Linked DNA regions of Homo sapiens: region 1 is linked to region 2. Evidence: fine-mapped expression QTL. Tissue or cell type: whole blood. Region 2 holds a variant in brackets; the other region holds the start of a gene. All regions are shown on one strand. Distances are from middle to middle.

The links. PIP is the estimated chance that this variant, and not a neighbour inherited with it, causes the effect.
Region 1: MLKL starts here. The variant in region 2 is fine-mapped to the expression of MLKL in whole blood (TOPMed, PIP above 0.99).

The regions. Positions count from the first base shown.
Region 1 is chr16:74,696,281-74,706,331 of GRCh38, forward strand. MLKL (mixed lineage kinase domain like pseudokinase) reads right to left here and starts at 4,582. Exons shown (of 11, transcript NM_152649.4): 1 at 4,173-4,582. RefSeq lists an enhancer at 4,036-4,485.
Region 2 is chr16:74,670,296-74,680,346 of GRCh38, forward strand. It overlaps MLKL (mixed lineage kinase domain like pseudokinase), which reads right to left. Exons shown (of 11, transcript NM_152649.4): 7 at 8,604-8,685; 8 at 5,318-5,469; 9 at 5,060-5,109; 10 at 4,665-4,805; 11 at 1,560-2,243. The coding sequence ends at 2,209. Among named protein-coding and RNA genes, the nearest start is that of RFWD3, 8.4 kb to the left of the region's middle. The variant CTCTG/C (reference allele first, on the strand shown) is at 5,397.

The sequences.
Region 1 (10,051 bases), 26 kb after region 2:
TGATATGTTTATATCAGTTTCGTCTATTACAGATATATCCTGCTAAAGCATAGAGGTTTCAGGGGCCAGGCGGGTAATTCAAATGAGTGAAGTGAGCTGAGGTAGTCTTTACTGCCACAGATAAATATGTTTCTTTCTGTTTTTTTTTAAAACATGTGGACTATCTTTCATTTTTCCTACAAAAAATTGTTCAGTTTCTTCCTACAGTCCTTTAAGAAAAATGCAGCTGGGCGAGGTGGCTCCCACCGATAATCCCAGCACTTTGAGAGGAAGAGACAGGAGGATTGCTTGAGGCCAGGAGTTCCAGACCAGTCTGGACAGCAAAGTGAGACCCTTTCTCTACAAAAATAAAAAAAATAAAATAAAATAAAATGAAATAAATAAAATATAAAATTGGCTGGGCGCGGTGACTCACGCCAGTAATCCCAGCACTTTGGAAGGCTGAGGTGGGCGGATCACTTGAGGTCAGGAGTTGGAAACCAGCCTGGCCAACATGGTGAAACCCCGTCTCTACTAAAAATACAAAAATTAGCTAGGTGTGGTGGTGCATGCCTGTAATCCCAGCTACTCGGAGGGCTAAGCCAGGAGAATTGCTTGAACCCAGGGGGTGGAGGTTGCACCATCTCAAAAAAATGTAATACATTACATATATATAGTAATATATATAATATTACATATATATAGTAATATATATGTAATATTACATATATAGTAATACATATATATAATATTACATATATATAGTAATACATATATATAATATTACATATATATTATATATATAAGTTAGCCTGGTGTGGTGGCACACACCCGTAGTCTCAGCTACCTGGGAAGTTGAGATAGGAGGATTCCTTGAGTCCAGGAGGTTGAGGCTGCAGTGCCAGCTTCCTACTCTTAACCTCTCTCTCTTCTCTGAACATGAGTGAGGAAGCACAGAGCCCTGATCCTAAAGCTTGGAATGAGGCTAACCTGAGCATGGTAGAATGGAAAGGGAGAAAGAATCTGAGTCTTTGATGACAACATTGAGCCACTGGTTTGAACTGACATGAAGTGTACCCCATCCCCTAACTGCAGGTTTCATGAACCAATAACCTCCCTGATTGTTTAAGGCAGTTTGAATCATGTTTGCTTTATTTGCAACTGAAGCCGACTGCGTTCAGCAATGAATGATGATAATAATTATGACACTAGATCTCTCAATTCACCTACTACATCCTAAGTGCTTTGGAACCCCCAGCTCTCCATGGTTATTTTCATTTAACAGATGAAGATACCATCTGGGCACAGTAGTTCATACCCGTAATCCCAACATTTTGGGAGGTAGAGGTGGGAAGATTGCTTGAGGCCAGGAGTTCCATTCTGGGCAACACAGCGAGACCCATCTCTACTAAAAATACAAAAATTAGCTGGGACCTGTAGTCCCAGCTACTCAGGAGGCTGAGGCGGGAGAATCGCTTGAGCCTGGGAGGTTGAGGCTGCAGTGAGCTATGATGACACCACTGCACTCCAGCCAGGGAAACAGAGAGACCCTGTCTCGAAAAAACAAACAGGTGAAAAGTGAAGATGCTGCGGTTCAGGGAGGTTGCATTCAAATAATCACAAGGCCATGGAACCAGTTTTCAAAGTATTTAAAATAAAGTTAGGGTAGGGTGTCATGACTCAAACCTGTAATCCCAGCACTTTGTGAGGCTGAGGCCAGGGGATCGTATGAGCCTGAGTTCGAGACCAGCCTGGGCAACATGGTGAAACCCTGTCTCTACAAAAAAATACAAAAATTTGCTGGATGTGGTGGTGCTTGCCTGTAGTCCCAGCTACTCTGGAGCCTGAGGAGGGAGAATTGATTGAGGCTGGGAGGTCGAGGCTGCAGTGAGCCATGATTGTGCCACTGACTCCATTCCAGCATGGGCAACAGAATGAGACAGTGTCTCAAAAACACCACCACCACCACCACTAACAAACGACAACAAAAAACAAAGTTAGTTTTTTTTTTTTTAACAGCTCAGTGAAATAGGTAGGTTAAGTATTATCGCCAGTTTATGGATTAATTAGCAGCTTGGAGAAAATAATTGGCCTGGAGCCCAAGTATGGCTTTAAAACATGAGTAAGGCACTGGCAGAAGTGAAACTAAATAAATGAGCAATCGATATAGTTGTGTTTTTGTTGCCTGAGAGTTACAGTGATTGGGCAAGGGAGGTAACAGTTATTAGGGCACTCCTAAAAAGACTAGTGGATCTCAGACTACCCAGCTATTCCCACGTGCTAAGCAGATATCTTCAAGGCCATTTCTTGGGAATTGTGAGGGCAAAAGGTTTTACACTTTCTCTGTTGCACCAGAAACAGAAGCAAATGTGGCAATGTTGTTCAAGGAATCTTGCAAATTGTAGCTTCCTAGCTCTAAGCTCCAGTTATCTTACCAGCAGCCTCATCAGAAAGCCATATCTCAGCACTGAACTAATCAGAAAGGAAAATGGGGAAAATATCCCACCCATAGAACTGACAAACAATTTCAAATAATAAATTATACAGTGGTGGCATGGTATGAAGAAAATTGCAGCGGTCACATTGGCTCATGCCTGTAATCTCAGCGCTTTGGAAGGCCGAGGCAGGTGGATCACCTGAGGTCGGGAGTTTGAGATCGCCCGGCCAACATGGTGAAACCCCATCTCTACTAAAAATACTAAAATTAGCCAAGCATGGTAGCAGGCGCCTGTAATCCCAGCTACTCGGGAGGCTGAGGCAGGAGAATTGCTTGAACCCGGGAGGTGGAGGTTGCACTGAGCCGAGATCACACCACTGTGCTCCAACCTGGGCAACAGAGCAAAACTCCGTCTCAAAAACAAAAACAAAAACAAAAAAAAAGAAAGAAAGAAAATTGCACAAAACAAAGCTTGAAGAAAGGAGGAAAGAGAAGTGTTATATTTCTGGCTGGGAAGACTAAAACAGACCAACCCAGCAATCCTTCCCAAATTTAAATCCAATTTAATGCAGTTCCAATAAAACATCTACTGACATATTTTGGCATTAAATCAAAATGATCCTAAAGTTCATTTGAAATGGGAAATTAGTAGGGATAACCAGGATTTTAAAAAATAAAGAAAAGGGGACTTGCCTGTATGAAATTAAAATATATTAAAAACTGCAAAATATTGGGAAAAAGCACCCTACAATAACTTAAATTGTTTAAGGTCTTATTAAGTATATGATCTACAAGGGAAGAAAGGGAATATACATATATACACACTTAGACTGGGCAATTTGAATTTCTAGGAACTTATGATGTAGAAAAGCTTGTGTTTGTAGATAGATGGCTACCGAGATGTTCACTGCAGTGCTATTTATAATATGTAAAACAAACAGCTAAGAATATGTTCAGGCCAGCTGCAGTGGCTCACACCTGTAATCCCAGCACTTTGGGAGGGTGAGGTAGGAGGATCACCTGAGCCCAGGAGTTTGAGACCAGCCTGGGTGACAAAGCGAGACCCTGGCTCTACCAAAAAATACAAAAAAAATTTAATTGGGTGTGGTGATGTGCACCTTGTAGTCCTAGCTACTTGGGAGGATCTGGTTGGAGGATCACTTGAGCCCATGAGTTCGGAGGCTGCAGTGAGCTATGATTGTGCCACTGCGCTCCAGCCTGGGCAACAGAGGAAGACTCCATCTCTCAAAATAAATAAATAAAAAGAAAAAGGGGATTATGTTCATATGTTACGATGAGAAAACAGGTTACTAATTTTAAAAGTGAAAAATCTTTAAATGGTAATAACAATGCAAATTCACCTCTTCCCTCCAAAAAATAAAAAATAAAAATAAAATAAAATAAGTAAAGGTTATCAGGCATTTCCCTCTTCTCTCTCTCTCACTCTGTCTCTCTCTCACGCCTTCAGCCTGCAAACCTGAAGACTTCCTTTTTCTGAGAAGACATCAGGTAACTTGTTCCCGTGCCCCTGCCCTCCACGACCCCCACTGCTACTGGGCGTCTCGCTTTGGCGGAAGGTAGTGCGAGATCCGAGCAGGCAGCTCCACCATCAGAGCTGAGGAAATGAAACCAACTCGGTCCTGAGTTCCAGGAACTCGGACCGGGCCACCCTCACCCCTGGTTCTTCCCATCACCGTCCAGGAATTCGGCTGCAGCCCCTCGGCCCCGCCGCCTCCTGGGAAGACCCCATGCTCACCTTCGCGCCTCCCGAGGGGTGTGCGTCCAATCTGTCCCGTGCACAGTTCCAAAAAGCTCGCTCTTCCACCTTCTTTCCCACGACCGCCTCCTGCCCAGGCGAGAAGTTTGCAAACGCGAGGCCCGCGGGAGTTCCCCTGCGCCCCCTTTCCTGGTGCCCGCACCCTGCACTCTGCTGACTGTACCGGACGCCACACGTGGCTGGCGGCGACAAGGCGCCCCGATCCCTACCTGAGGGAAACCCCGGCCACTGCAGCTGCACTTGAGCAGGGTCCCTCCACTCAGCCACTTGGATGGCTGTTTCTGTCCAGTGCCCTCCGGAGGCCACTGCCTCAGGTCTGTGATGCCTGCAGAGAATGCTGCGACACTTCCCCCTCCGACGTGGCTCCAGCTGCCAACCACCAGGCTCACGGTGCCCTGGCTCCCTGGAGCCGCTTTCTAGGCAGCTCGGAGCCACGGCCCCTCCCTTCCTTCCTCCTGTCCTTTCCACACTCTTCCTGCCTTCCCCAAAGTCACTGGGTAACTACGCTGTACACGTCAGTACCAAGCCTTCTTTAGGGGCTGGGGATTCAGAATAGAATAAGGTCCCAGCAACTATTATAACCAGGACACAGTATGAGAAGGACTGGAAGTTTAGAGAAAAACTGAAAGTTGGAGAGAAGCTTCTGGTGTTTGCTTCTCTGTGCTGGATAATATTGGCGGGGTGGGGAGGGTACGAGGGAAGAGACACCAAAGTGGGAAAAAAGTCACTTCCTCTTCTAAGGTCATTGCAGAACATCCTGTTACAGTGTGAGTCAGGTTTTCTTAAGATTAACTACATCTTCAGCTAGAAAGTCTAAGTAGTGTTATGCATTTACTCAACAGACTATTTGCCTCTAAAAGAACAGAACTGGGAGCTGGGTGTGGTGGCTCATGCCTGTAATTCCAGCACTTTGGGAGGCGGAGGTGGCCAGATCACCTGAGGTCAGGAGTTCAAGACCATCCTGGCCAACATGGGGAAACCCTGTCTCTACTAAAAATACAAAAATTAGCCAGGCGTGGTGGTGCATGCCTGTAATCCCAGCTACTCGGGAGCCTGAGAGGGGAGAATCGCTTGAAGCCGGCCTTGGAGATTCATTTCTTCGCCTTGCTATTGTTCTTCGTCTCCTGCATCATCAGTTTTCTTCCTGTCTTAGGTGAAGAGATTGAGGTGAGGCAGGAGAATAGGGTCTGCAGGCAGGGAACATAAAGCTGATTCACGCTGACTTCTTAGAACTAAATAAAATGGACACATTTCAGCTATGACAGGAAATATTTTCTTCATTTACATATGGCGTTCACTGAGTAAGTGACTGAGCAACTTCACTTCATCTTCTTCATTTACATAGGGTGTACACCAATTAACCAATGGGAGCCTCTAGAGGGTATTTAAATCCCAGAAAATTCTGTAACGGAGTTCTTGAGCCCCTATGCTCACGCTGGCTCCCACCCTGTGGAGTGTACCTTTGTTTTCAATACATCTCTGCTTTTGTTGCCTCATTCTTTCCTTGCTTTGTGCATTTTGCCCATTTCTTTGTTCAAGATGCCAAGAACCTGGACACCTTCAACAAGTAACACAGGTGCCTGTGATTTATTGAAGGAAGACTCTTAGGAGAGTGGTGGGTATGATAGGGCAGAGGAAGAAAAAGTGAAACAAGTATGTAGTCAGTGGAGGCTCCATGGGGAGGTCTGGAATGTGAAGGTCTGGAACAAGAGGCAGCCTCCTTTCTGCCCAGGGCAATTCTTCTGGACGAGGGGGAAGCTGTGTGAGTGTTTAGCTGTCAACACTCATAGCAGCTGCAGGATGGGTATACTGATCTGCTATAAACAAAATCATACAATGTATAACCTTTTGGAAGTTTTTTTCTTTTCTTTTCTTTTTTTTTTTTTTTACTGTCCCACCATCAATGTACAAGACATTCAGTTTCTCTGCATCCTCAGCAGCATTTTATTTTGTCCCTGCCTGAATTTTTAGCTATTCTAACAGGTGAATAGTGATATATCATCATGGTTTTTTGTTTTGTTTTGTTTTGAGATAGAGTCTTACTCTGTTGCCCAGGCTGGAGTGCAGTGGCGCCATCTCAGCTCACTGCAACCTCCACCTCCTGGGTTCAAGCGATTCTCCAGCCTCAGCCTCCCAAGTAGCTGGGACTACAGGCGTGCACCACCACACCTGTCTATTTTTTGTATTTTTAGTAGAGACAGCGTTTCGCCATATTGGCCAGACTGGTCTCGAACTCCTGACCTCAGGTGATCCACCCACCTTGGCCTCCCAAAGTGCTGGGATTATAGGCATGAGCCACTGCGCCTGGTCTCATCATGGTTTTAATTGGCATTTCTTTAGTGCCTGGTGATGATGGACATGTTTTCATGTGCTTGTTTGCCATCTGTATAGCCTCATTGGTGAAATGTCTGTCCATGTCTTTTGCCCATTTTTAGTTGAATTCTTTTTAAAAAACTTGAGTTTTGAGAGTTTAAATATTCTAGATATTAATCCTTTGCCAGATAGGTGGTGTTCAAATGGTGGTGGAGTAACTGAACAAAAAAATGAACTTCACCTAAACCTCATATTCTATGCAAAAATTGCCTGAATGGATCAGAGATTTAAATGTAAAATGTAAAACAAGGAACCTTTTAGAAGAAAGCAGAGAGAACTGTGCAGAATGAAAGGACATTTCCTGTTGAGAAAATGTAAATGTTTGAAAAAAGTTTAGGGCCGGTCGCAGTGGCTCACGCCTGTAATCCCAGCACTTTGGGAGGCCGAGGTGGGCGGATCACGAGGTCAGGAGATTAAGACCATCCTGGCTAACACGGTGAAACCCCATCTCTACTAAAAATACAAAAAAAAATTAGCCGGATGTGGTGGCGGGTGCCTGTAGTCCCAGCTACTCGGGAGGCTGAGGCAGGAGAACGATGTGAACCCAGGAGGCGGAGCTTGCAGTGAGCCGAGATCGCGCCATTGCACACCAGCCTGGGTGGCAGAGTGAGACTCCGTCTCAAAAAAAAAAAAAAAAAAAAAGAAAAGAAAAAAGTTTAAATGAGCCCTTTAAAATGTTTTTATTTTTAGTAGAGACAGAGGTCTCCCTGTGTTGCTGAGGCTGATCTTGAACTTCTGAACTCAAGCAATCCTCATGCCTTGGCCCCCCAAAGTGTTGGGATTACGAGCTTGAGCCACCTTGCCTGGCCAAATGAGTCTATTTAATAAGAATGGCTATTCATACTAAAAATTGTACAATATTAAAAATAATTCCCAGTTTCTTTGGCTTTATCTTGGAGTTGCCATTTGAAAAAAAAAATCACAAACATTTGAAAAAAAAAAAAACTTGTAGAACATGTAGAAGAAAATCTTCAGAACCTAAGGCTAGGCGAAGAATTCTTAGGCATAACATCAAAGCCATTATTATTCTTTCTTCTTTTCTTTTTCTTTCTTTTTTTTTTTTTTGAGACGGAGTCTCCCTCTGTTGCCAGGCTGTAGTGCAGTGCTGTGATCTCAGCTTACTGCAACCTCCACCTCCAGGGCTCAAACAATTCTCCTGCCTCAGCCTTCCAACAAGCTGGGACTACAGGCATGTGCCACCACGCTTGGCTAGTTTTTTTTTGTATTTTTAGTAGAGATGGAGTTTTAGCATGTTGGCCAGGCTGGTCTCGAACTCCTGACCTCAAGTGATCTACCTGCCTTGGCCTCCCAAAGTGCTGGGATTACAGGCATGAGCCACTGCGCCTGGCCCCAAAGCCATTATTCTTAAAATTAAAAAATGATAAATCAGACTTGATCAAAATTTGAAACTTGCTCTGCAAAGACCCTTTTAAGGGGATGAAAAGACAAGTTACAGATTGGGAGAAAATGTTTGCAAATCACATGTCAAATAATATGCTTCTAAATAATTCATGAGTCAAAAAGGACATTTTCTCAAGAGAAATGAAGATATATTTTGCTCAATAAATTTAAACAGATCAAAATCATACAAAGCATCTTCTTTGACCACAATAGAATAAAACTAGAAATAAATAACAGAAAGAGAACTGGAATATTCACAAATATGCAGAAATTAAACAACATACACTTAAACAACTAGTGGGACAAAGAAGAAATCACAAGGGAAATTAGAAAATACTTCGAGACAAATAAAAGATACAACATGCCAAAACTTAGGGGATGCAGCAAAAACAGTTCTCAAAGGATAATTTATAGCTACATGGCTACAAAAGAGAAAAAGAGAGAGGCCTGGTGCCGTGGCTCATGCCTGTAATCCCAGCACTTTGGGAGGCTGAGGCGGGTGGATCACGAGGTTAGGAGTTCAAGACCAGCCTGGCCAACACGGTGAAACCCCGTCTGCTAAAAATACAAAAAAAAAAAAAAAAAAAATAGCCCGACGTGATGGCGGGCACCTGTAATCTCAGCTACTCAGGCGGCTGAGGCAGGAGAATCGCTTGAACCCAGGAGGCAGAGGTTGTAGTGAGCCAAGATCATGCCACTGCACTCCAGCCTGGGTGACAGAGTGAGACTCCATCTCAAAAAAAAAAAAAAAAAAAAGAGAGAGAGAGATCTCAAATCATTATCCCAACTCTACCCTTTAAGGAACTAGTAAAAGAAGAACAAATCAAACCCAAAACTAGCAGAAGGGAGGAAATTACCAAGATCAGAAAAGAGAAAATCAATGAAACTGAAAGTTAGTTCTTTGAAAAGATTAATAAAATTGACGAATCCTTAGCTAAACTAAAACAAAAAGAAGATGAAAATAACTTAAATCAGAAATGAAAGTGGGGACCTTACTATCTACCTTACAGAAATAAAAAGGACTATGAGAGAAAACTATGAACAATTGTTTGCCAACCAATTAGGTAACCTAGAGGATATGGACAAATTCCCAGGCACGCAAAATTTACCTAATTCACTCAATGAGAAATAGAAAATCTGAACATACCTACAACAAGTAAAGAAATTGAATTAATAATCAAAACTCCTCCAAACAAGTAAAGTCCAGGCCTAATAGTTTTACAGTAAATTCTACCAAACATTTTTTTCTTTCTTGGAGACTTTTATTTATTGTATTTATTATATTTTTTTATTATATTTTAAGTCCTGGGGTACAGTGCAGAATGTGCAGTTTTGTTACATAGGTATACACGTGCCATGCTGGTTTCCTGCACCCATCAACCCGCCACCTACATTAGGTATTTCTCCTAATGCTATCCCTTCCCTAGCCCCCACCACCTGACAGGCCCTGGTGGGTGATGTTCACTTCCCTGCGTCAATGTGTTCTCATTGTTCAACTCCCACTTATGAGTGAGAACATGCGGTGTTTTCTACCAAACATTTAAAAATAAATTACCACCAATCATTCTCAAACTCTTCCAAAAATAGGAGAGGAGGAAACACTTCCTAACTCATTTTAAGAAACCAGCATTACTCTGATACTAAAGCCAGATAAAGACACAAGAAACGAAAACTACAAGCCAATATACCTTAAGAATCCAGAGGCTAGCTGGGCGCAGTGGCTCATGCCTATAATTCTAGCACTTTGGGAGGCTGAGGCAGTTAGATCACTTGAGCCCAGGAATACGAGACCAGCCTGGCCAACATGGTGAAACCTAGTCTCTACCAAAAATACAAAAAAATAGCCAGGCATGGTGGTGTGCGCCTGTAGTCCCGGCTACTCGGGAGGCTGAGGTGGGAGGATCACTTGAGCCCATGCCACCACACTCCAGCCTGGGCAACAGAGCAAGACCCTGTCTAAAATAATAATAATAATAATAAAAAGCAATACAGAAAGTTACATGGATGTAAAAACCTTAACCAATTTAAAGCTCAGTTTTCCTGAGTAACTGAAACCTAATAAAGACAACATAGGAAATTGTCTT
Region 2 (10,051 bases):
ATGTATTTTTATTGCTGTCTTCTCAGTGATTGAAACAATGGACAGCACATTTGCTGTTGAATGATTTAGAATGAGTTCTGAAAAAAATGTAACTTTAAAGACAGGGATTAGTGTATCCTAGGCAAAGCACACACCATGAACAAAGGTATAAGATCTAAAATGAGACCAGGTGTGGTGGCTCATGTCTGTAACCCCAGCACTTTGGGAGGCCGAGGTGGGCAGATCACTTGAGGTCAGGAGTTCGAGACCAGCCTGACCAACATGGTGAAATGCTGTCTCTACTAAAAATACAAAAATTAGCCAGGTGTGGTGGCACACACCTGTAATCCCAGACACTTGGGAGGCTGAGACAGGAGAATCGCTTGAACCTGCAAGGCGGAGGTTGCAGTGAGCCGAGATTGCGCCACTGCACTCCAGCCTGGCCAACAAGAGTGAAACTCTAGGCCGGGCGCGGTGGCTCACACCTGTAATCCCAGCACTTCAGGAGGCCGAGGCGGGTGGATCACCTGAGGTCAGGAGTTCGAGACCAGCCTGACCAACATGGTGAAACCCCCATCTCTACTAAAAAATACAAAAAGTTAGCCGGGTGTGATGGTGAGCACCTGTAATCCCAACTACTTAGGAGGCTGAGGCAGGAGAATCGCTTGAACCCAGGAGGCAGAGGTTCCAGTGAGCCAAGATTGCACCACTGCACTCCAGCCTGGGCGTGACAGAGCAAGACTCCGTCTTAAAAAAAGAAATCTAGAATGAAAGCACCACAAACATGGGTTTGAGTCTGGCAGGGATTAAAATCTGGCAGCTCCTATGTGGACATATTTTGTTTGTCTTATCAGCATTAAAATAATTTTTTTTTTGAGACAGGGTCTCACTCTGTCACTCAGGCTGGAGTGCAGTGGTGCAATCATGCCTCACTGCAACCTCCGCCTCCCAGGTTCAAACGATTCTCATGCCTCAGCCTCCCGAGTAGCTGGGATTACAGGCATGTGGCAGCCACACCCAGCTAATTTTTGTATTTTTAGTAGAAACAGGGCTTCACCATGTTGGCAAGGCTGGTCTCGAACTCCTGACCTCAGATGATCCTCCCGCCTGGGCCTCCCAAAGCGCTGGGATTTCAGGCATGAGTCACCGTGCCCAGCCTAAAATAATTTTTAATGAGATACTGACCTTTAAAAATAAGGACATCACAGAAAAATCCAACTTTCTAGCTCTTTTGACAAAATGGAAAGCTCTAGAAATGTTGGGATCCCATTCTATGTGACAAAGTATAGACTGGAGTTGAGGAGACGCTGTTCTTGCTCATCTGCCCACTGAAGCCCCCTCCAGGTTCAAATCATTCATTTAGTTTCCTTCCTAGGCCCTATGGGTATTAGAGTTTGCAATCTCTGGTAGGAGAACTCTGGCATCTGATTGGAAAGTCAGGTTGGAAAGTATGGTATGGGGGATATCCATAAGGCTATGGATATCCAAATAGGAAGTTTGTACTTGATTCCTTGGGCAAGAGGAAGAATTGAACAGTTTCTGCCTAGTTACTTCTGTTGTGTAAAAAACCACCACAAAACTTAGTGTTAAGACAACAGTAATTTATTTAGCTCCTGATTGTGTGAATGGGCAATTTGGGCTGGGATCTGCTTGAGTGGTTCTTCTGGTCTTGATTGGCCTCATTCATGTGTTAGCTGCCATGTTGGTTGGGCTAGTATGACTTCAGCTAGGAAAGCATGTTTCTGCTTCATGTGGTCTCTCATTCTCCAGCATGCTCACTCAACATGTTCATGGCTGGGTAAGGTTCCAACAGACATTTATAAGGCCTCTTGAAACCTAGGCTTGGAACTGGCATACAGTCACTTCTTCCACATTCTATTGATCAAATCAAGTCACAGTGCCAGCCCAGATTCAAATGGTGGGGAAAGAGACTTCATTTATGGAAGGGAGGAGCTGCAAATTTCATTGCCAAGAGGTGTGGATACCCAGAAAGATACATTTGACAAACCATCTATCAAAGTTACTGTCAGAGGTATGTTTTTGGAAATATCATTTGGAGTGGGATGTGTCCTGTATGACTGGAATCGTTTTCTATTTGTAACAGAGAAGCGTGCCCACTCCTTGCACCCATAGATAACCCAATGCCGAAGGATATGAGAGAGAGAGATGTCCAGTTTGTGCCTCTCCCAGCTTCTTGTCCAGAGACTCCTTGGTTTAGATTTTGATACACTACTTAGAAAAGGTGGAGAGTTTCTTTAAGATTTCTGTGGATGAATGAACAGAAAATTAGACCAGGGTAGGCAGCTGAGAGCCAAGTTAGAAACACAAAGACATTTCTACATTGCACAGTCATTTAGAAACTGCATTCCCCCTGGTCTGGCTGGTGCCTGAACCACCATCAGCACTCACACATTTGGGATATAAAGTTCTCTTACTTGATCAACTTTTAAAACACAAACACCTCACAGGAGGGGGTAAACTCACATCTTAGTATGAATTACTCTCTGGTGTTAGATTCCTTAATACTAGGAGGACCCTAGGTTGTAAGGGAGCTTGGTAGAAGAAGAAAGAAGACAGAGGAGAGAGTGTAGTGGAGGACAGCATTGTATAAATCACTGTTGGCTTCTCATCCACCCCAAAGACCAATTTTTCAGAACACATCATTAAGTCTGCGCTTCTGCTCTGTGGTGGTGAAGAGAAAGTTTCAGACAGAAACTATGCCGTGACTTTGATTCTTCATTCTGAAAGGTAGGGATGTGGATGAAGGGAGAGGAGAGATGACAGATGAGACCCTCTCAGGTAGTGTGAGAGGTTTTCCCAACAGACCATCTGTGAGAAGGCCTTGAAGAACAGTCCTCATGCTCAAGACTTCTGTAAGCAGACAGAACATCCTTGGAAGCTGCCTCAAAAGTCTGGACTCATGGCTCTTTAGTTCCTTCTTCTTTTCTTTCTTTCTCTTTTGAGACAGAGTCTTGCTCTGTCACCCAGGCTGGAGTACAGTGGCGCGATCTTGGCTCACTGCAACCTTTGCCTCTGGGGTTCAAGCAATTCTCCTGCCTCAGCTTCCTGAGTAGTTGGGATTACCGGTGTGTGCCACTATGCCCAGCTATTTTTTGTATTTTTAGTAGAGATAGGGTTTCACCATGTTGGCCAGGCTGGTGTTGAACTCCTGACCACAAGTGATCTGCCTGCCTCAGCCTCCCAAAGTGCTGAGATTACAGGTGTGAGCCACTGCACCCGGCCCCTTCTCTCTTTTGTCTGGGCTTTGTGGAAAGTCTGGGAGATTTAGGTCTAGGGTATGAGAGAGAGATGCTTCCAGGGAGGGAGACAGTGTAAGGAAGCTATGGAGAAGCAGCTGATGACATGGTGAGATAAAAGTCTGCATCGAGGAAATAATCCCAAGGATGCTGAAAAAAGGAAGGAAGGCAGACAAGGAGGGAGGAAAAAAGGAGAAAGATAGTCAAAAATAAAACAAGAGAGAGGAAAAAGAAGAGAGATAGAAAGACAAAAAGACAACAAGATAATGCTGCTGTGGTGGTGCCTGTTGTCCTAGCTACTCTAGAGACTAAGGCAGGAGGATCACTTGAGCCCAGGAGTTTGAGGCTATAGAGTGCCATGATCCTACCTGTCAATAGCCACTGCACTCTGGCCTGGGCAACATAATGAGACCTCCTCTCTAAAAAAAAAAAAAAAAAAAACCATAAATAGGCAGACAGATAAATAAAGGAAGGAAATAGGCAGGAAGAAAGTAATCTGCCTTTCCAACCCACTTTGGATAAAACAATGCCCTCTGGAAGCCCTTACACTATTGACATTGGGGCTGCCAGAGAGTTCTTTGTGTGGTGGGCTGTCCTATGCGTTGTAGGATGTTGAATAGCATTCTTTTTTTTTTTTTTTTGAGATGGAGTCTTGCCCTGTTGTCCAGGCTGGAGCGCAGTGGCGTGATCCTGACTCTGCAACCTCTGCCTCCTGGGTTCAAGTGATTCTCTTGCCTCAGCCTCCTGAGTAGCTGGGACTACAGGCATGCGCCAATATACTTGGCTAATTTTTGGGTTTTTAATAGAGACGAGGTTTCATCATGCTGGCCAGGGTGGTCTCAAACTCCTGAGCTCAGGCGATCCACCCACCTTGGCCTCGCAAAATGTTGGGATTATAGGCATGAGCCACCGCGCCTGGCCAACATTTTTTTTTTTGAGACGGAGTCTTGTTTTGTCACCCAGGCTGGAGTGCAGTGGTACAGTGGCGTGATCTTGGCTCACTGCAACCTCCCAGTTTCAAGAGATTCTCATGCCTCAGCCTCCTGAGTAGCTGGGATTACAGGCATGTACCACCATGGCTAGCTAATTTTAGTAGAGATGAGGTTTCACCATGTTGGCCAGGCTGGTCTCAAACTCCTAACCTCAAGTGATCTGCCCATCTCAGCCTCCCAAAGGGCTAGAATTACAGGCATGAGCAACCGCACCCAGCCATCATCCTTGGCCTTTATTCACTAGATGACAGTAGCACACTCCATCCTACCTCCCTGGCCTTATGACAAACAACAATGTTTCAGACATCACTAAATGTTCCCCGGATAAAACCACCCCTCGTTGTAAACTACTGCCTTGGAGCTGGTGAAAAGGAAATCTTTCACAAGTGTGAAATAATGATGGGGCTCACGCTCTTTACACCAGAAAGAACCCTACCATCCACAGAGGGCCGCACAGAGGGATCATGGGCCCGGCACTCATCAATGATCTCCCGCAGCTCTGAAGGGCAGTCTTCACCCAGTGGCTCCTGCTGCCGCTTCACAGCCACCAGCTTGCGGATCTTCTCAGAATTACAGCCTGGAAATGATAGCATGAGAGCCTCAAAAAATTGCTCCGCTACTCGTACATCTCTCTGGATGCTGATGGCTGGCATCAGAACTAGGGACTCTGAGTATGGAAACAACAAGAACTTCCAACGATTCCACTGACCAGCCCAGGCAGTTCCCACATTAAACAACAAATTGCCAGGGGCAGCACTGATGGGGAATTTCTGGTCTACTGGAAGGGGACCCAACCTCACCACTGGCTGAGCCAGTCTTCACATTCTTCACCTTGAAACGGGATATCTCCAGTGGCGATTTCCCAGAGGACGATTCCAAAGCTAAAAGAAAACCAAGAAACTGAACAACCATAACTAGTCTCCCCTTTCCCCTGTCCCTCTAGCCACTGCCAGAAAACTCAGTGAATTTTTTGATTACTACCCAATTTCATTCAACAGAGTTGAGTTTAGGTGGTCCTTGGAGGAGTTTGATTTGGGTTTTCCTATTATGCACATCTGAGTTAGAATCTGTACCAGAACGTGAGTGTACCTGTATATTTCAGACTTTACATCATATTGATAAAATACATCTTCCAGTTCCTGAGGTGAGAGATATGCTGTAGATTTGA[CTCTG/C]TCTGTCTTTTCTCTCGTAGTTCCCAAACTCATGGAAGTCTGTGTTTTCCTCAACTCAAATCCTGCAAGCTAGATAGAGAGGCAACTTAGAAAGAAACAAGCAAGATCTTGGGTAGAGGAGTAAAGGGCAGGGATTGTTGCTACACACAATTGCCAGGGAATTGTCTTTTACCTTAGGGATTTATTTCCTGTCGTGACTTCTGTCTGTGTGGCTACTTTATTGGTTAACATTATGGGTTCAACTTATCACAGTGCAGTGACCAAGAGAAACACAAAGAGATTTCTTCTGTATAAAATGGGGCGATGACAGGGGGGATTACTTGAGATAATGGTTATAAAGCACCAGTAAGACCTGCTAAGTTGTAGTTGTTGCCAGTATGACTATGTTAAAATGTAGGGGTTTCTCAGTTGAGGACTGAACTCCACTCAGTGAGAGTGGAGAGGGGTCATAGAGCCACTGCCTGGCTCGCCTTTTCCCAAAGAAGCAGATGGAAAAATGGCATGGGGGCATCCCCTCTGTGCTATCTGACTTTATGGGGGGTCAGCCTGATCCTTTGGCTTTGGCGTGACGAGTGTGAGTCATCCCCCCAGGCCTGCGCGGTCACCTGGTGTTCTTAAAGAAACTGTAGCACAATCATGACAGCATATGTTCTTGTCCCATGCACACCTGCCATTGACACCATTGGTGTGCTGAAGGCTGCCAGCCCCAAACTCAGCCAGGTACCCAAATCTAGGGGCAATGTGAGAAAAGGGATAAGGCACTTAGATGGCTCATCCCCCTTTCATTCATTCATTCATTCATTTGCTCACACGTTTCCTGAGCACTGACATTCTCTTACATCTAGCGCCGTATGGGATACCAGGGATGAAAGGTGGAATAGCGCATCTTATAGTCAGGCTGCATGAAGAGCGTGAGAGTAGTAGAAACAGTGTTTTGGGAGTACTTATATCACCATCGCAGAGGGGGAAAGGCATCTGAAAGGCAAAAAAGGCCTGTCTGCTATTATTTGAGGGCTGTCTCTGACACTCGTAGGACTGGAAGAAAGAAAACCGTCTATGGATGACAAAGAAAACTGCTAAAATTCTTTTAGCATTTGGGAATTGTGGACACTGAGTTCACAAAATCTTTTCCTCTTCTGTATGAAAATCTGACTTCCAGTGAACTTCTTAGCTCTGTTCCCCTGGAAATCTGATACAGGTAGACTGTCACCTATGGCTCTTAGTAACATTGCTGATGATGAAAATAAAAATGACTGCTGATTGTTAGATTGCTTCTGGGCAGGATCAAGGGGGTAACAGGACTACACAGTAAACAGCTGATGGGAATGCTTTGTAGCAAATTTTTCTTATTTATTTATTTATTTATTTATTTTTTGAGACGGAGTCTCACTCTGTCGCCCAGGTTGGAGAGCAGTGGTGCAATCTCAGCTCACTGCAAGTTCTGCCTCCTGGGTTCATGCCATTCTCCTGCCTCAGCCTCCGGAGTAGCTGGGACTACAGGCACCTGCCACCACGCCTGGCCAATTTTTTGTATTGTTTAGTAGAGACAGGGTTTCACTGTGTTAGCCAGGATGGTCTCGATCTCCTAACCTCATGATCCACCTGCCTTGGCCTCCCAAAGTGCTGGGATTACAGGTGTGAGCCACCGCGCCCAGCCTCTTTTTTATTTTTTGAGACAGGGTCTCATTCTGTTGCCCAGGCTAGGGTATACAGTGGCGTAAACATAGCTCCCTGCAGCCTTGACCTCCTGGGCTCTAGGCATCCTCCTCCTGCCTCACTCTCCTGAGTAGCTGGAATTACAGGTGTGCACCACCATGACTGGCTGATTTTTAAATTTTTTGAAGAGGGGGAGGTCTCACTGTGTTGCCAAGGCTGGTCTTGAACTCTTGGGCTCAAAGTGATCCTCCTGCCTTCCCTTCCAAAGTGCGGGGATTACAGGCATAAGCCACCATGCCTGGCCATGTAGCAGCTCTTTTCTTTTCTTTTTTCTTTTTTTTTGGAGATGGAGTTTTGCTGTTGTTGCCCGGGCTGGAGTTCAACCACGCGATCTCGGCTCACTGCAAACCTCTGCCTCCCGGGTTCAAGTGATTCTCCTGCCTCAGCCTCCTTAGGAGCTGGGACTAGAGGCGTGCGCCACCACACCCGGCTAATTTTTTGTATTTTTAGTAGAGACAGTGTTTCACTATGTTGGCCAGGCTAGTCTTGAACTCCTGACCTCAGGTGATCCACCCGCCTTAGCCTCCCTAAGTGTTGGGATTACAGGCGTGAGCCACCATACCCAGATGTGGCAGCTCTTAAAACAGCAACTCACATGTCACTTGCAGAAACACTGGAAGGCATGCCTGCAGAGTTGTTACCAGAGATGCTGACTCCTGCAGGTCATGGGCTTCTAAGCCTGGATGACCCACACCCACCTAATGGGAGCCTCTTTCTCCAGCACCTGTGGCTCTGACAAAGAGAGTATCTCCTGGATGACTGCGAGGACTCACCCTGGAGGGAAAGGTTTGGCGCTGCTGACATCCTTCTAAGTAACTGAATGACAAGTGTGGCCTAGACCTGTCCTGTGAGTCTGAGTCCTTAAACCTAACAAGATCCCCCATTGTATGTTGTAGGGACATAGAAGTGGTGTCCAGGCATCTAAGGGGAAATGACTTGTAGCCCATCCCTGCTAAATGGGCAGTGAGGGAAGGCAGTCATCAGAACAGGCGGCATAGATGGAGACTGTTGTGTGGTGGGCACACAGAAAGTTGAAGTTAGTTCTGAAACTAAAAAACTAAAATTGAACTCAGTTCTAAAACCAAGGCAAGGCCGGGCATGGTGGCTCATGCCTGTAATCCCAGCACTTTGGGAGGCCCAGGTGGGCGGATCACTTGAGGCCAGGAGTTCAAAACCAGCTGGCCAACATGGTGAAACCCTGTCTCTACTAAAAATGCAAAAATTAGTCAGGAGTGGTGGTGCATGGCTGTAATCCCAGCTACTTGGGAGGCTGAGGCAGGAGAATCGCTTGAACCTGGGAAGCAGAGGTTGCAGCGGGGCGATCTCGCTCACTGCCCTCCAGCTTGGGTGACAGAAAGAGACTCTGTCTCTAAATAAATAAATAAATAAACTAAGACAAGAATCAAGCCTTTCTGAGACACTCGTGCCCCTCTCATAGCACCAGTCATGCAGGTTTGACCCAAAGCGCCCCCGCAAGGCACACTCACCTTCACTTGGTAGCCTTGAGTTACCAGGAAGTTTGAGCTTCTGATTTTTCCGTGGAGTTCAGGTGCTTCTGAATGGTGTAGCCTGACACAGCCAAAGGCGGGGAGCATAAGTACCTTTGCCCAAACTTTCTTTGGGGGACTGACAATCATAACTGGGCTGATGAGGCTGGACAGTACCATGGGTGCCTGTCCACAGTTACACAGGAAAAACTGGGATGTAGAGGCAAGGTTTGAGAATCACAAGCCGTGAGTATAGAACAGAGATGAGATTCATAGCACAAGGGGGCATGACAGCCCTTATGAAGTGCATGCAATCGGGCATCAGGGGTGCCTTTAGGTAGAGAAGGACAACGTTGCCTCTGTGTTGCTTTGCCTGGGAAGTGCTGGGCAGATCCGAGAGCTCAGAGGCATGGCTGGGTGGCTGGACCTTGCTGGGACCCTTCAGGTCAAAGCAGAATGTGAAGCTGGGGTCCCGCTGACTTCCAGACAAGGGCTTTGGTTTCACAAAGCCCCTGCGTCCCAGGTTGGGTTGCACTCATGGTGTCTGCCTGAGCTCAGATTCTCCCAGAAGCAGATCATGAGCCATGATTTGGGCACGAGGGATTTGTATCAAGAAGGTGCTCCCTTGACCAGGCATGGTGGCTTGCGCTTATAATCCCCACACTTTGGGAGACCAAGGTGGATGGATCACTTGAGGTCAGGAGTTTGAGACCAGCTTCGCCAACATGGTGAAACATCATCTCTACTATTAATAAAAATACAAAAAAATAGCTGGGCGTGGTGGCATGTGCCTGTAATTCCAGCTATTCAGGATGCTAAAGCATGAGAATCACTTGCACCCAGGAGGTGGAGTTTGCAGTGAGCCGAGATCACGCCACTATACTCCAGCCTGGGCAGCAAAATGAGGCTCTGTCTCAAAAAAAAAATAACTCCAAAAGTCCCCCAAACAAACAAAAAGAAGGTGCTCCCAGGAGAAATGGTTGAGGGAGTACAGGAAGTAGGATGGCGAAGGAGAAGAAATCAAGCAAGAGGTTGATTTCAGGTGAAATCCCAGGCTCAGGTGGTCTCGCGGAGACCTGTGGGCACAATTACACCTCAGAGTGTGTCCCACAGGAAGCAAAGGAACTGGACTTTTATACTTACACCAGTCAGTGGTTATGGACTGTGTTGGGGAGGGCAGGGACAGATGGATATAAAACTCGTGGGCACTTTCAGCTGTCTATAAGGGTGAAAGGGCTCCAGTGCCCACAGGCAATCCTCTGAAGATTGCAGCTGTGAACTTTCAGCAGCAAAGCATGCCGAGAGGGGGATGGGTAAATAGAGCTGGTAAAAAGGATCAGAGGTCATTTGGAGGGGATATTAACAGTGTCCCCTACAACATCCAAAAATACTTCTCCTTAAACTCACTAGTTTAGGGAGTTGAGAAGAAACAAACTTAATTTCAAATT